2 separate regions of the Homo sapiens genome follow, and region 1 is linked to region 2. A link means that fine-mapping ties the variant in region 2 to the expression of a gene that starts in the linked region. Tissue or cell type: subcutaneous fat. Region 2 holds a variant in brackets; the other region holds the start of a gene. All regions are shown on one strand. Distances are between the middles of the regions.

Region 1 (8,138 bases), 23 kb before region 2:
GGTGACGAGACTTCTCACCCCAAGTACCTCACAGGTAGGAGAGCAGTGTGCTTGTTCCATTAGCAGGCAGAGGCTGCTGACTGGACCCAGGAGTCTGAAACAAACCCTGAGCATGAACCCTGGGAGACAGGGCACTCCAAGGGCACACAGGGAAGCCAGCAGGGCTGGGTCATTGCACTGGGGAGGACTGAGCCTTCGTGGCAGGTGGGGTAAGGGGCACGGTAGGGTCTGGGCAATGAGGCTGGGTTCAGGCCACAGTGGCAGATCCTGGTGGGTTTCATCATGCCAGGCACCAGCCCGAGCCCATAGTAGGGTGCGGGTGGAGCCTTAAAGTGCAAGGTTGGGACAGGTCCCAGAGTCCAGGGGCCACTGTCACAGAAAACGTTGCATCTGAAAAGTTGGATTTGGCTTTTCCTTTGTCTCCTACACGCACATAAAAAATGACACATGCAGCCTCAGCTCCACCCACACATAAAGCTTATGCTCTTCCTCTCAGAGCTGCGCCGCCCCTCTCAGGGAGGCCGTGACCCTAGATGCTGCCCTCTTTCCCACACCCCACAGATGGTCTGGCAGCCTGGGTGTTCAGGCAAGGCCAAGCAGGCCCCTGCTGTGCTAGGTTCAACAGGAGGCGCATCTTCACCCTGGTATCGTCTGCCCTCCTCACGTCAGGTAACCAGTCTCTGAAAAAATGGGCCAGGCCCACCTACCTTTTTGTTGTGTCTTAAGAAGTGGTAGCCCAAGGCAAGCTTCTTGTAGGCCTCCCCAAACTTCTCATTCCACCCTTCCACGGCCCGGGTGGTCGCCTGCCTCAGCCTCTGTGCCGCCTCCCTGGGGGGCGGCAGAGGCTGTGCGGGGTCTGTGCCCAGCGTGAGCTCCAGGAACTCCTGGAAGTTGGAAACAACCAGCATCCGGAACTGGTGAGACCTGACGAAGAGTTCCTCCACAATCTGGAAGGCTGAGAGACGGATCTCGGCGTGCTCCTGGGTCAGCTGTGCTATCAGCAGGCGGTAGGCGCGGCTCAGCTGCTCCTCTGAAGACCTGGGGATGCGAGCTGGCCTGACCCAACTGCCCCACACGCAGAGGATGGGCGGGGGGAGACTCTCCGTGCATGGATGCCGCACGCACGTGTGGCAGGGACCACCACTGCCTTCCCATCTTCATTCTCCCCTTTTCTAGAGCAGGGTCTGCAAACTACTGCCCAAGGGCCACATCTACCTCCCCAGCCCCTGCCTGTTTCTGTGTGGCCCACAAGCCAAGAATGTCAATACAAACAAAAAATACTTGGTGAAATGTGAAAATCATATACACTTCAAATGTCGGTGTTCATTCACAAAGTGTCATTGGAACGTCGCCCATCTATCCACCTACATCATCTACAGCTGTGTTCACAACTGAGGCATTACAGCAAAGCCTGAAACACAAACCATCTGGCTCTTTAAACACACGTTACCTAGCGCAACACACACCGCCCGGCACAAACGCCCACCGCCCGGCACAAACGCCAACCGCCCGGCACAAACACACACCGCCTGGCACAAACCGCACACCGCCCGGCACAACGCACACCGCCCGGCACAAACACACACCGCCTGGCACAACGCACACCGCCCAGCACGCACACTGTTTCAGCTGGGTGCCTCCTGCTGCAGGAAGGAAGGAAGGCCTAGAGCTCGGGACATCTCCCAGCCCCTCCTGAATGCTCCTATTCCCAGCTCCTGACCCCACATAAACCATTGCGAATTCGATTTCCTGGCGCAGGCCACAAAACCTGACCTGAAATTTTCTATCAAAATGTCAACACTCCATCACTGTATAAACAATCTATAAACTGCCATTTTACAAACACAGGATACAGAATAATCAGTGTCCTCGACTTATGCTCCACCCTCCGAGGGGAAGTTTTGCTTCCCCCATGAATCTCTGGCTGCCTGAGGGTGACGGCAGAGATCCCCTCCGGCGTTTTCCTTGGAGGAAGTGAACAGAGGTGGACATACCCTAAAGGCGATGGACCAACTCGCCCATCAGCAAGCTCTATTCTTTCCCTTCGAAAAGTCCAGCAGCAAAGAAAAAGATGCACGTTTCTCTCTGAATCACATTTGTGCACTCAAGAACTCCTACAGGATGTGCTCCAGACCACACAAATGGGAATGAAGAGAAGCACCAACCACAGAGCAGTGGGGTCCCCAACGCCACACGCCCCGACCCCAGAACATGACCACCCGTCAGAGCCGGGTACTGCAGGGCCCCGAGAAAATGTCCTGGGTGTGTCCCTCGGGTGGTTCTCTCCCAGGTGGGGGCAGGAGGGCAGGGCCCTGTGTGTGTCCTGGGCTCAGTGGGCCAGTCAGTTACTGTTACTGAACCCTAAGACATACTTGCAAATTTTCTTCAGTTCCTTCATTTTCTCAGGATTTAGTCGGGGTTCTCCTGAAGTTGTGAGCTCTTCTACCAACTTCGAAAGTTTCTGATCCATATCTAGAAATAAGTAAGGCAGAGATGCTATATCACCATCTGTATTTTATAGCTCTCGGTGTTATTAACGTGTTTACTGGGTTCCACTATAAACCGAAAGCTCCGGGAGGACCCTGAGGCTGGGGTCCATCTGTGGGTGCCTCTCTGGGAAATATGTGTGTCCAGCAAGGCCTTTACGGCGGTGATTGCAGTTTTAAAAGTGAACCTTAAACTCGGGACCTCTACAATCCCGTGTGTGGGACGCTGCATTGAGGGTCGTGCGTTAAAGGAACCAGTGGCGCTGTCCGAATCAGCTTTTCCCCAACGTGACTGTTGCTGTTTCCCTTATTCACTCAGATTCCGCAGGGCAGCCTCCAGCAAGGCTGCAGAGGCCAAGAGGAGCCAAGAAATTCTGAGACCAATGAAAAGTCGCGTCCGGAGAGCAGGGGCGGCCCTAACGGAGGCAGCCTGCCCGGATACCCAGGGCCGAGCACCGCGGCGTGCCTGGTGGGATGAGGCGAGGGCCTGCCGCACCGCCAGGGAAAGGCCGAAGGACCCGGAAGGAAGCGCCAGGCGAGGCCGGGGCGGAGGCTGGGAAGCTGCGCCCTACTCGGGGAAAGAAGGGGCCCGGCAGGGCCACGCGAGGCTTGGACCGCGGGGTCGCTCTCGCACAGCGGCTGCACCGGGCGGGCGCGCCGGCTTCGACGGTGCTCGGGGGGCTGCGGCCTGTCACTCGGCCCAGGGCCCGCCCTCCGGCCCCGCCGCCGGCGCTCTCGGGCACACGGGACACGCCCTGGCCGCAGGTCTCTGCCCGGCGCCCGCAGAGCCCCGGGGACCGAACCGGCGCGACCCCCGCCCGGCAGCGTAACCACAGCCCCACCTACCGCTGACGCGGCCGCTCGCCTCGCCCCGCCCCTTCCGGCGGGGGGACCGCCCCTCTTGTCAGGTGCCCAAGACCTCTACCGCCATTGGCTGGCCCTGGGCCGGACGCATCAGGACCTGGGGTCACCACAGCGACGACTGCACCTACCGCTCGACGCGGCCTTTCTCGCCGTTGCCCCACCCTTTCCGGTCAAGGCCCCGCCCCCTAGCACGTGCCCTGAGCTCGACAGCCAATGGCTCACCCCAGCCCAGGAGGCGCAGGCGCAAAGACGCGGCCGAGGTCTGCGCGGTGACGTAGGCGCGCTCCCGGCGAGGGCGAGGCAGGCTGCCGGGGGTGGGGAGGGGGACGCACGAGAAAAAAGAGGCGGGAGGGCGCAGAAAGTCCTTAAAGGGGCCGCATGTACGGGCGCCGGGGGCGGGGCCGGCCGGGAAACTGAGGCCGAAAGGAAGTTCCGGTCTGGGCCTCAACGCCACGCCCGCCCGCGGGCTCGCAGCCAGGTCCCTTCACCTGCAGAGGGCCGGTGAGGACCGCCCAGACGGGCGGGCGCGGGCCCCCGCCCCCGAGCTCGCCCCGCGCAGGGCGCCCTGAACCCCGCGGCGCCTCCCCGCTCCGGCCTCGGGAAGGGAATCCCTGGGCGGGCTTGGGGGTCTTCGGGGCCCACCTCGGCGCCAGACGCACAGCAGGTACCCCTGGGCCCGGGCTGGCCCTGGGCGGAATGAGAAGCAGAGGCGCCGTCCGTCCTGCCGCCGAAGTCCGCAGCCTCGAACGCAGGGGAGTGCGAGGTCGGCTGCGGACGGACGGACCTGGAGACCGCGCTTGGGAAACCGTGGCTTCGGAGGAGCGTGGTGTGGACCCCACTCGCGGGGCGCCCGGCACAGGCCACGCAGAGCAGACGCCCGACTGGGCTCCCGGGGCTGGGTGCAGGGCGGGGGCCGCCGGCGGCGGGCCGGGGTTTCTTTTTCGGGGGGATGGGCGTGCCCTTGCATTACGGTGGTGGTAGCTCACAACTCTGTTAATCGTGTTTTTACAGGGTGGGTTTCAGGATGTGTGAGTTATATCTCAGTAAAGCAATTATTTTAAAAAGGAAAAGAAGAGGGACTCCCTGCGCCGCCCCTCTCTGCAGCACCAGCTTCTGTCCCTGGGCGTCAGTGGCTCCCAGCTCCTAGCTTGCAGCCAGCCCCGAGCCGCTCCTCCGCCTCACCCCTTCCTCACCCTGCCTCTTGCTTCACTGAGCAAGCTGCAGCCAGACCCTCCCTCAGCGCCCCTTGCCCTGTGCATCCAATCCCCGGCCTGTGGCTTCCTCCAAGGCACCCATCCAGCAGTTTCCCTCTGTCTTCTACAGCGTGGTTTTTTTTGTTGTTACTAGTTCTCATTAGTATAAAAGGGTGCCGTTTCTCCCATACTAACAAAACCCTCTCTTTATCCAACTTTTCTTACCAATTGCTAAGTCCAGTCTCCTTTACACTGCCCCGGGGTGTCCTCTCAGCCCTCAGGCTCAACAGCACAGCCAAGCTGCCCGTCCACTGCCCTCTGTATCCGCTGATGGCCCTGCAGCCTTTTTTTTTTTTTTTTTTTTTTTTTTTTTTGAGACAAAGTCTCGCTTTGTCACCCAGGCTGGAGTGCAGTGGCACGATCGCGGTTCACTGCAGCCTCCGCCTCCCGGGTTCAAACGATTCTCCTGCCTCAGCCTCCCGAGTAGCTGGGATGACAGTCACCCGCCACCACGCCCAGCTCATTTTTGAATTTTTAGTAGAGACGGGGTTTCACCATGTTGGTCAGGCTGGTCTCGAACTCCTGACTTCAGGTGATCCGCCCGCCTCGGCCTCCCAAAGTGCTGGGATTACAGGCGTGAGCCACCGTGCCTGGGCCACCGTGCCTGGGCCTGCCCTGCATCCTTCTGTTCGCTTGGACCAATTATCTGACTCACTTGGGCTTCTCTCTTCCTCTCACTCCATGCCCATTTGGTTTGCAAATCCTGACAGCCCTACCTTCAGAACACATCCAGATCTGAGCACGTCCCACTGCCTCATTGCCACTGCCAATTCCTGGCCACCCCTGCAGCAGGTCACTGCCGTCACCTTGTCTTTCCCTTGCACCCTGGTACCCCTAGACCATCATGCAGCAACCAGAGGGACCTTTGAAAGTCTAAGGTCGGATCACAGGATTCCTCTACACAAAATCCTCCGACGGCTCCCATCCCAGGGCAAGGCAAAACCTGTCGTGGCCTGTGTTTGCTGCCCCCTGCATCCCACCGGTTGACTTCTCCAGCCTGCTCTTGCTGCCACACGGCCTCTGGGGAGCGGATCCCTCTGCCGGGAAGCTTCTGCCAGTATCCACAGAGTTCCTTGCCTCCTTCCAGCCACTGCTCATGTCTCACCCTGAGCAAATACTTCTGCACCCGCTCACCTCCCTGGCTCAACACCCCCCATCCGTTTTCTAAACCTGCCGTGCTTGTTCCCAGGGCACTTCTGGCCCTTGTGTCACACAGACTTACTGTCTTACTAGGTGATTCGCTTTTTTCTCTTCACTCCTAAAACATACAGTCCCTGAAAATAGGGATCTTTGTTTCATGAAGCCAGACAAAAAGCAGGTGCTCAATATTTGTTGAATGCTGGATAAGATTAGAAAGCCAAGATAAATCATGATGAGAGTTAGACGATATTCTTGTTTGTTTTTGTTTGAGACAGAGTCTTGCTCTGTCGCCCAGGCTGGAGTGCAGTGGTGTGATCTCGGCTCACTGCAACCTCTGCCTCCCAGGTTCAAATGATTCTCGTGTCTTGGCCTCCCAAATAGCTGGGATTACAGGCGCCCACCACCACGCCCAGCTAATTTTTGTATTTTTAGTAGAAACAGGGTTTCACCATATTGGCCAGGCTGGTCTCGAACTCCTGGCCTCAAGTGATCTGCCCACCTCAGCCTCCGAAAGTGTTGGGATTACAGGCATGAGCCACTGCACCAAGCCAAGAATTAGAAGATACTTCTAAAAGATATTTTAAAAGAACCAATGGAAACTTAGAGATGATAAAACCCAAGCAGGATAAACAAAGAAAACCACCCAAGGCACATCTTAAATTGCAGAAAACTAGTGACAAATCTTAGAAGCAGTCAGATTAAACAAGGCGTATGACATACAGGCACAAAGAAGCCAAGGATTTCTTGTCCCCTCCTCCCCCTCCACCCAAAAAAAAAAGCCAGAAGAAAATGGAACATCTTTAAGGTGGTAAAAGAAAAAATACTGTCAATCTAGAACTGTATATGCAGCAATATAGCCTTTAAAAACTGAGGTGATGTAAAAGCATTTTCAGACAAAAGCTGCATGAATTATGACCAGCAGATTTGCAGTCCAGGAACTGTTATAGGATGCTCTTCAGATGAAAGGAAAATGATACCAGAGGCAAACTTTATAAAAGGAATGAAAAGTTCTATAAATACTTTTTTTTTTTGAGACGGAGTTTCACTCTTGTCACCCAGGCTGGAGTGCAATGGTGCGATCTTGGCTCACTGCAACCTCTGCCCTCTGGGTTCAAGCGATTTTCCTGCCTCAGCCTCCCGAGTAGCTGGGATTACAGGCACGTGCCACCACGCCTGGCTAATTTGTGTATTTTTAGTGGAGACAGGGTTTCACCATGTTGGTCAGGCTGGTCTCGAATTCCTGACCTCATGATCTGCCTCCTGGAGGTGGCAATACCTTAGATGCGAGAAGGATCTAAATCTGCAGGAAGATATACCATATTCATGGGTTGAGGACTCAATATTGTTATGATTTATAAGTCCTTGTTATGGACTGAATTGTGGCCCCTGCCTACCAAATTCCTATGTCGAAGCCCTAACCTCCAATGTGACTTTATTTGGAGATGAGGCCTTTAAAGAGGGGAACGTTAAATGAGATTCTAGGGATAGAGCCCTCATCTGATAGGACTGATGTCCTCGTAAGATGAAGAGACTCCTGAGATGTGTGTGCACAGGAGGAAGTCCACCACGAGAGGTACACAGTGAGAAGGGGGCCGTCTGCAAGCCGGGAAGAGAGGCCTCACCGGGAGCCAACCCTGCCAGCATCTCCTCTAGAACCGTGAAGAAATAAATGTCCATTGTTTAAACCCGCTAGTCCGTGGTCTTCTGTTACGGCAGCCGAGCAAACTAATACCGTCCCCAAATAGGGATGATAGGTTCACTGCAGTTCCAGTGACAATCCCAGCACACTTTTTACAGTGTTCAGCAGACACTGATGAGTTGATTTTACAACGTGCGTGGAAATGCAACAGACCTAGGACCACCAAGACCATTCTGAAAAAGCAGAACTGGAGGACTCATCATACCCCCTGGTTTCAAGATTTGCCTTAAAACGGCAATAGTTAAGATAATGTGGTGTTAGGACAAGGATAGACCTAAAGGCCAGTCTAACAGAAGGTAGTGTCCAGAAATAAACCCCAACTTAACACAGCCAGGAATTTTTTCTAATGGAGCCAACGTTATTCAACGGGATAAGAAAGGTCTTTTTAACAAATGGTGTTAGAACAATAGAGTAAACATATGGGATGGTGGGGAATCATCCTCAGGCTCTTCCTCACACAACACACACAAGTTAAGAGATGTGTTACAGACTTAAAAGCCGAAACTGAATCTTCTGGAAGATATATTATTGCAACCCTGGAATAGGCAGATTTTTTTTTTAGAACATAGAAAAGCATTAGCCACAAAAGAAAGAATAAATTGAACTGCACTAAAACTTAAAAAATCTGCTGATCAAATGACAGTCAATAAAGTATAAATACACATATCCCTCAAAGGATTTGTATGTGAGGAATCC
Region 2 (8,177 bases):
GGACGGTCGGGACCTCAAAGCTGGTTCCCCTGGCAGCCACGGGGGTCTGGATGCCCACCTGGGGCCACACCTTGGCGGGGGCCCTGCCAGGCTCCAGGCCTCACTCCCCAAGTCCCATTCAGGAACAGTGGGAGAAGCAGCCACCTGAGCAGGCAGGGGTCAGACTCAAGACCCAGGGGACGACCCAGGGGACGTCCCAGGACCCAGACCACGACAGGGAGGGCTGGCAGGGGCCGCAGCCGAACATCCTGCCCTCCCTCGAGGAGACGCACGTCCGCAATGCCTACCTCACAGCGTCCAGTCTCTTATTCTGCCGGATGAGTTCAATGAACTCCTGGATTCTGAGGCTGAACTCCAGGCAGCTCTGAGGGCAAAGACAAGACGAGGGCTTAGACAGCACATCCCACAGAGCCCAGGTGCCCGGGTGCCGCACCCGCATGTCCACCAGCAGACCCCACAACCAAAGCTCTGAACCCCTCTCTCACAGGCACGGGGAAGGCAGGGCTGAGGCTGAAGCTGCCACTTTAACCTGCAGCAGACTTTCCAGGGAACACTGGGTTCTGAATGTGAGTCCCGCCCCCTGCTCCTGCAGCTGCGGTGGGGCGTGCAGCCGCCCAGCATTTCAACCCGAAGGCCAGGGCGCTCAGGGCGCTTCCAGGAGCACAGCTGGGAGGGCAGAGCAGCAGGTGCAGCTGCTGGAGCAAAGGCACCAACCCCTCTGCAAGGACAAAGCAGCTTCCTGGGTCCCGCCCTGAGGCCACTGCTTCCTCTACACTCCCACCGGGCCTCTGGACCCAACTATCCCGAATGTAGACTGGGTGCTGGCTTGAACCCGGGGCTGTTCTGGGAGAACGTGGGCAAGTCCTGTCCCGAGGCGCTGATGCCCCGGGTGGGGAGGAGACAGGGACCACATGTGGGGCTGCTGGCTGGTGCCTCACAGGGGCATGAGGCAGAGAAGCAAGCTTGGAGCAGGCAGGACCCAGGTCGGCAGGGCGGGGAGGAGACAGGGACCACATGTGGGGTTGCTGGCTGGTGCCTCACAGGGGCATGAGGCAGAGAAGCAAGCTTGCAGCAGGCAGGACCCAGGTCGGTAGGGCGGGGAGCGCCTGCACCGAGGTTATGGACGGGGGACCGCACAGACACCTGGCGAGAACATGGCGGGCAGAAGCCGGGGCCGGTGCCGAGGCCCCAGGCGGGTGGCACATGGAATGGAGGCCTGGCCCAGGGGACACTGAGGTCCTAGGTGGCTGTGAGGCCAAGGGGCGGCTCGCGTGAAGGGAGGGCGCTTCCAGGATGTGTAGAAGACGGAGAGAGGCCGAGTTGGGGCTGCTGGCTGAAGGCACTATGCCTGAGGCAGGGGCGGGGGTGGGGGAAGCTCCTGCAGGACCAAGTCCCACATGTGTCTGCCTATGAGCCTCTCACGTGCACCTAAGGGAAGCCCAACCCTCAATCTGAAATCTCAGCAACCTCAGTCCAACGTGGGCCGAGACTTGTGGCTGGGGTGGGGGCAGCGGCAACATTGACCGCAGTCATCCAAGATGAGACGCGGATTCTACGGAAGTGACATGTCCGTCTAAACCGTAAGATCTTCCGTGTGGTTTCAGGACATTCTCAGGGCTTCACCCCGGAAACAGGATATAGGCGTGGGCACCACGGAGCGAGTCTTGGGCTGGGGCCGCGTGTCACTCTGGGTTCACATGGCCTGGCTCTCAGGACGGCATGAACAGAAACTCCACGTGGCAGATGAATCCACCCCGGACCACTGCATTTAAGTTGAAGCTCATCACTTCCGCTTCCCAGAGCTTTCCCCACTGAGCTTTCTGAGGAGCCACCTGTGCTCCAGCCCACCCCGCCTGCCAGCCTTGCTGCCCCGACACGCATAGCACCCACAGCAGTGGCTCCGCGTGGGTGTGGGGAGGACTGGGCTGCCCAGACCCCCGGGGGCCACCTGCCTTCCAGGGGCTCAGAGGGGCTCAGGTCCCTGCCCTGCTGCCTCTGCCCTGTACCCTCAGCCCCTCATCACCCTGTGTCCCTAGACAGACGGGTCAACAGGCTGGACGCAGAACTCACAGGCTTGCTCCAAGCTGGGGCAGGAGGACTGTCTCTGACCCCAGCAGTGGCACAGGCTCTGGGTGGGGAGTGCCAGGCTTGGTACAAATCAGCCGAGAGGCACAAAGTCATCCCAGGGTCCCGAGTCCCCACCCCACTAATCAGCAGGCAGACTTCGGTCAGCACTCCGCTCCCTTCAGAGCCAGCCTGGCAGGAGAGGAAGGGAAGGGCCAGCGGGAAGAGATAGAGGCTCCCCACCAGGGCCCCACCTGCCTCCCAGGGGCTGCCTGATGGCTGCCGTGTCTAGAGCAGGCGAGTGCCGGGGCTCTGTCTAAAGGCAGGACGCAGCTGCCGAGGGGGTGCTCTAGAAGAGCAGGACTCTGGGCCCACTCTAGGTTACCGCTTCACACAATAGACACCTCAAACCTGCTTTTCAATAACACCTTTTGCTCTAGTAGGTTACTTTCAATTGGTCCACTAATATGTAAGTGTGTCTATGTCGTGAAACTTAGGTATTCAGACCCAAATCTAAAACACCGAGTCTACACTGTCCCATACGGCGTGGAGCGCCAACAAGGCTGTGCCCGCCCTGCGACAGGCGCCCACACTGATGGCTCCGTGTGGCTTTCGCACAGACGTGCAGCAAACAAATCACTGCTTCAGGGGCCTTCAGGGCCACTCACCCACCCATGCCTGTGAAATCCATCTCTCAGCCAGGTCAAACTTGGGTCTCAAGTTTCTTTTCCCATCTAGGTTCTCACAGCTGGTCCCAGGGACCCGTTAGAGCACAGTCTGGCTCCTCCTTGCCTCCCCACACACCCCCTGGCGTGCGTGCACATGTGAGCAGACTGCACAGACAGCCGTGTACCCCAACTGGCTCGGCCGCATCTCGTACCGGGCATGTTTTCGTGTCATTTGGAGTCTTCAGGGCGCATTTCTGGACAGCATCTAAATATGGATTCAGGCCCCGTCCAGTCTCGACTTCATCCAACACCAGGCACGCTCATCCAATCTCAACTCATCCAACACCAGGCACGCTCATCCAATCTCAACTCATCCAACACCAGGCACGCTCATCCAATCTCAACTCATCCAACACCAGGCACGCTCATCCACCAGGCATCCAATCTCAAATCATCCAACACCAATCTCAACTTTATCCAACACCAGACACACTCATCCACCAGGCATCCAATCTCAACTTCATCCAACACCAGACACACTCATCCACCAGGCATCCAATCTCAACTTCATCCAACACCAGACACACTCATCCACCAGGCATCCAATCTCAACTCATCCAACACCAGGCACGCTCATCCAATCTCAACTCATCCAACACCAGGCACACTCATCCAACCTCAACTCATCCAACACCAGGCACGCTCATCCAATCTCAACTCATCCAACACCAGGCACGCTCATCCACCAAGCATCCAATCTCAACTTTATCCAACACCAGGCACGGTCATCCACCAGGCATCCAATCTCAACTTCATCCAACACCAATCTCAACTTCATCCAACACCAGACACACTCATCCACCAGGCATCCAACCTCAACTTCATCCAACACCAGACACACTCGTCCACCAGGCATCCAATCTCAACTTCATCCAAACCAATCTCAACTTCATCCAACACCAGACACACTCATCCACCAGGCATCCAATCTCAACTCATCCAACACCAGACACGCTCATCCACCAGGCATCCAATCTCAACTCATCCAACGCCAGGCACACTCATTGACCAGGCATCCAATCTCAACTTCATCCAACACCAGACATACTCATCCACCAGGCATCCAATCTCAACTTCATCCAATACCAGGCACACTCATCCACCAGGCATCCAATCTCAACTCCATCCAACACCAGACACACTGATCCACCAGGCATCCAATCTCAACTTCATCCAACACCAAGCACGCTCATCCAATCTCAACTCATCCAACACAAGGCATGCTCACCCAATCTCAACTTATCCAACACCAGGCACGCTCATCCACCAGGCATCCAATCTCAACTTCATCCAACACCAGGCACACTCGTCCCCCAGGCATGCATTCAGGGCCCCGAGTCCTGGCCCTGCCTGTCCCCACAGCAGCTTCAGACAGGTCGTGTGCTCGTGGCAAGCCTCCAACACCCTCCAGCAACACTGTCCGGCAGGTAATTAGGGCTTGCAGGAATATCCTGGCAGCACCAAGAACCTATCTTCCCTCTGACATCCACAGGAAACAGCCCTGGCAGAGTTCCCACTGTGAGGTGTGTGCCGGCTCTCTGGGAGGGAGTGTGGGGCTGGCACTGTGTAGTGGGGCCGCAGGTTACATACCAATTCTGGCTTTCCTTTTAGGGTTTCCATACCAAGGTCCAAACTCTCTTTAGGGGAGCTACTAGCCGCTCTACTTTTTCGTCCCGTCTTTGCTTCGTGCTTGTTTTGGCGGCCCTGAGTGGCAGTGTGTCACTCCTGGCTGGTAACTG[C/T]GTGCACCCTGCCAAACTCAGCCAGGGTGAGGTTAAAGCAGCGCTCAGTTTAGAAGACAGAAAAGTTTTGCTAATGGAGGCAGAAGTGTTAACATAAGTTAAAACATTTCTGCAAGCCCCTAGGGTGACAATGCCTTTTAATAAGCAGGTTTAAATTTTGTCCTTTAGGAGTCCATTTCTTAAGCTTCTTTTGGTCTCTACAAAAGTCGGTACTCGGCCGGGCACGGTGGCTCACGCCTGTAATCCCAGCACTTTGGGAGGTTGAGGCAGGTGGATCACAAGGTCAGGAGATCAAGACCATCCTGGCCAACGTGGTGAAATCCCATGTCTACTAAAAATACAAAAATTAGCCGGGCATGGTGGCGCATGCCTATAATCCCAGCTACTCAGGAGGCCAAGGCAAGAGAATCGCTTGAACACCGGAGGCAAGTGAGCCAAGATCGTGCCACTGCACTCCACCCTGGCGACAAAGCGAGACTCCGTCTCAAAAAAAAAAAAAAAAAAAAAAAAAAAAAAGTGGGTATTCATTAACAATATCACAGCCCAGAGCTCTGCAGCCTCGCAGATGGAGAATGACTTCCCAACCAGCTTTTCTGTGTCTATGACTGAGCACAGGGAGCCCATGGAGTACCCCCATGGAGCAGGACTGACCTGTCTCCAGGCTCTAAGCCCAGCAGCCCCAACACTCTGTGTGCACATGGTCAGCCTCCTGTAACCCACTCCTTCTGAGCCTCATGCCAGCTGTACACAAACTGTAATGCCAAATGAGGTGCACTTTTCCAGATTTTAGCCTAAAAGTGTAACACAGCCACCAAAAAAACTCCCAAACCCAACCCCCACCTTACAAACCAAAACCAAACTACTGTGAACCACCAGGCAAGGGGGTGCTGGCTCCAGGGCAGGTGGCGCAGCCTCGGCCCCGACCCACTCCCACCCCAACCTGGGAGTCCGTGCACCTTCATCTTCCGGAGCCGGGACTTGTTGTCATGGCACCAGGCCAGGCAGGTGGCCGTCTCACGCCTCTCCAGGGACTCCTCCACCTCTTTGGCCGTCAGGAACATCTCAATATTCACTAGGTCCTTAGAGGAAGGAAGCAGCACCTGATCAGAATGTGCTGGCTCAAGGCCCCCATGCCACCCTCCCACACCCCAGCCTCCATGAGGCAGGCCCAGCACCGGCCACCACTCGAGATGCATCTCCAGTCCACACTGTGGGTCTGCACTCGTGGACTACTCAGGGCCGCTCTGAGATCCTAGGAACAGAACAGCCCCCAAGGACCAAAAGGTCGGACGCTCACGTAGACAGCAGCCATAGCCGGGCAAGGGAGCCAGGCTGGCCCCACCTGTCCATGGAGAGGAGCTGCTGAGACACACATGCAGGCAGGGCCAGGCCACATGCCAGGCGGCCCTGTCTCCACTCCCCACAGCCCCCCAGCACATCTACAGGCCCTCCCTGGGCAGCCCCCTCATTTCAAAATCAACAGTAAGCAAATAATAACATGCTAAATAATACATAAACACATTATGGCTAATATCGCGGTAGTTACAACCAATGATTTATATGAAAGCAAAGAAAAAAAAAAAAAACAACAAAAAAAACAGAGTAACCCAGGCTTAGCATCAAGTCTCCGCTAGTGGCCGGGCACAGGGGGTGGGTGCTCAGTGCCTAGCAGTGGAACCCATGGTCTCTGGCAGGGGCAGGACAGCAGCTGGTACGGGACTCCACCAGGCACGGCAAGGCTTGGGGCAAGCGCTCAGGTGGTCCTCAGCAGCAATGACTCCCGACCTTCCCCAGTGGGACCAAGGACGGCACCTCCGCCTGCACATAGCCCAGGACCCAACGGCCCAGGATGAGGCCACAGTTCACCACTTGGGTCCCACAGCCCCACGTCTGGACCACCGGCCTCACAGATGCGCTGTTTTCTTTGATGATTACTCTTTTCTGAAACCCCTCATAACGTTGTTTTCTTGCACCTTTTCTTTCATGATTTCTTGTTTCTGAAACCCCTTCATAGCATTTTCTTGCATGTTTGCTTTGATGATTTCTCTTTTCTGAAACCCCTCACAGTGTTGTTTCCTTGCATCTTTTCTTTAACGGTTTCTCGTTTCTGAAACCCCTTCATAGCGTTTTCTTGCATGTTTGCTTTGATGATATCTTTTTTAAAGCCCCTTCATAGCGTTTTCTTGCACGTTTGCTTTGATGATTTCTTTTCTGAAGCCCCTTCATAGCGTTTTCTTGCACATTTGCTTTGATGATTTCTTTTCTGAAGCCCCTTCATAGCGTTTTCTTGCATGTTGATTATTCTTTTCTGAAGCCCCTTCAAAGCATTTTCTTGCATGTGTGCTTTTGTTTGTTTTTTTGAGACGGAGTCTCGCTCTGCCGCCCAGGCTGGAGTGCAGTGGCGCAATCTCCACTCACTGCAAGCTCCGCCTCCTGGGTTCACACCATTCTCCTGCCTTGGCCTCCCGGGTAGCTGGGACTACAGGCGCCTGCCACCACGCCCGGCTAAATTTTTGTATTTTTAGTAGAGACAGGGTTTCACCGTGTTAGCCAGGATGGTCTCGATCTCCTGAACTCGTGATCTGCCCACCTTGGCCTCCCAGAGTGCTGGGATTACAGGCGTGAGCCACCGTGCCCGGCCTCTTGCATGTTTGCTTTGATGATTTCTTTTCTGAAGCCCCTTCATAGCGTTTTCTTGCATGTTCGCTTTGATGATTTCTTTTCTGAAGCCCCTTCATAGCGTCTTCTTGCATGTTCATGTTGATGATTTCTTTTCTGAAACCCCTTCATAGTGTCTTCTTGCACGTTTGCTTTGATTATTTCTTTTCTGATGCCCCTCCATAGCGTTTTCTTGCACGTTTGCTTTGATTTCTTTTCTGAAGCCCCTTCATAGCATTTTCTTGCAGGTTTGCTTTGATGATTTCTTTTCTGAAGCCCCTTCATAGCGTTTTCTTGCATGTTTGCTTTGATGATTTCTTTTCTGAAGCCCCTTCATAGCGTTTTCTTGCATATTTGCTTTGATAATTTCTTTCTAAAGCCCCTTCACAGCGTTTTCCTGCATGTTGATGATTCTTTTCTGAAGCCCCTTCATAGCATTTTCTTGCATGTTTGCTTTGATGATTTCTTTTCTGAAGCCCCTTCATAGCATTTTCTTGCACGTTTGCTTTGATTTCTTTTCTGAAGCCCCGTCATAGAGTTTTCTTGCACGTTTGCTTTGATTTCTTTTCTGAAGCCCCTTCATAGTGTTTTCTTGCACGTTTGTTCTGATGATTTCTGAAGCCCCTTCATAGTGTTTTCTTGCATGTTTGCTTTGATGATTCTTTTCTGAAGCCCCTTCATAGCGTTTTCTTGCATGTTTGCTTTGATGATTTCTTTTCTGAAGCCCCTTCATAGCGTTTCCTTGCATGTTTGCTTTGATGATTTCTTTTCTGGAGCCCCTTCATAGCGTTTTCTTGCATGTTTGCTTTGATGATTCTTTTCTGAAGCCCCTTCATAGCGTTTTCTTGAATGTTTGCTTTGATGATTCTTTTCTGAAGCCCCTTCATAGCGTTTTCTTGCATGTTTGCTTTGATGATTCTTTTCTGGAGCCCCTTCATAGTGTTTTCTTGCATGTTTGCTTTGATGATTTCTTTTCTGAAGCCCCTTC

What was found. PIP is the estimated chance that this variant, and not a neighbour inherited with it, causes the effect.
Region 1: it holds the start of UVSSA, and the variant in region 2 is fine-mapped to the expression of UVSSA in subcutaneous fat (TwinsUK, PIP 0.95).

What each region holds. Positions count from the first base shown.
Region 1 is chr4:1,342,424-1,350,561 of GRCh38, reverse strand. It overlaps UVSSA (UV stimulated scaffold protein A), which reads right to left and starts at 3,354. Exons shown (of 14, transcript NM_020894.4): 1 at 2,802-3,354; 2 at 2,373-2,472; 3 at 708-1,038. The coding sequence starts at 2,470. RefSeq lists enhancers at 2,666-2,745, 4,591-5,113, 5,114-5,637 and silencers at 2,976-3,415, 3,656-3,985, 4,206-4,295.
Region 2 is chr4:1,319,814-1,327,990 of GRCh38, reverse strand. MAEA (macrophage erythroblast attacher, E3 ubiquitin ligase) reads right to left here. Exons shown (of 9, transcript NM_001017405.3): 4 at 5,488-5,610; 5 at 288-364. Among named protein-coding and RNA genes, the nearest start is that of UVSSA, 23 kb to the left of the region's middle. RefSeq lists enhancers at 918-2,117, 3,292-4,491. The variant C/T (reference allele first, on the strand shown) is at 4,532.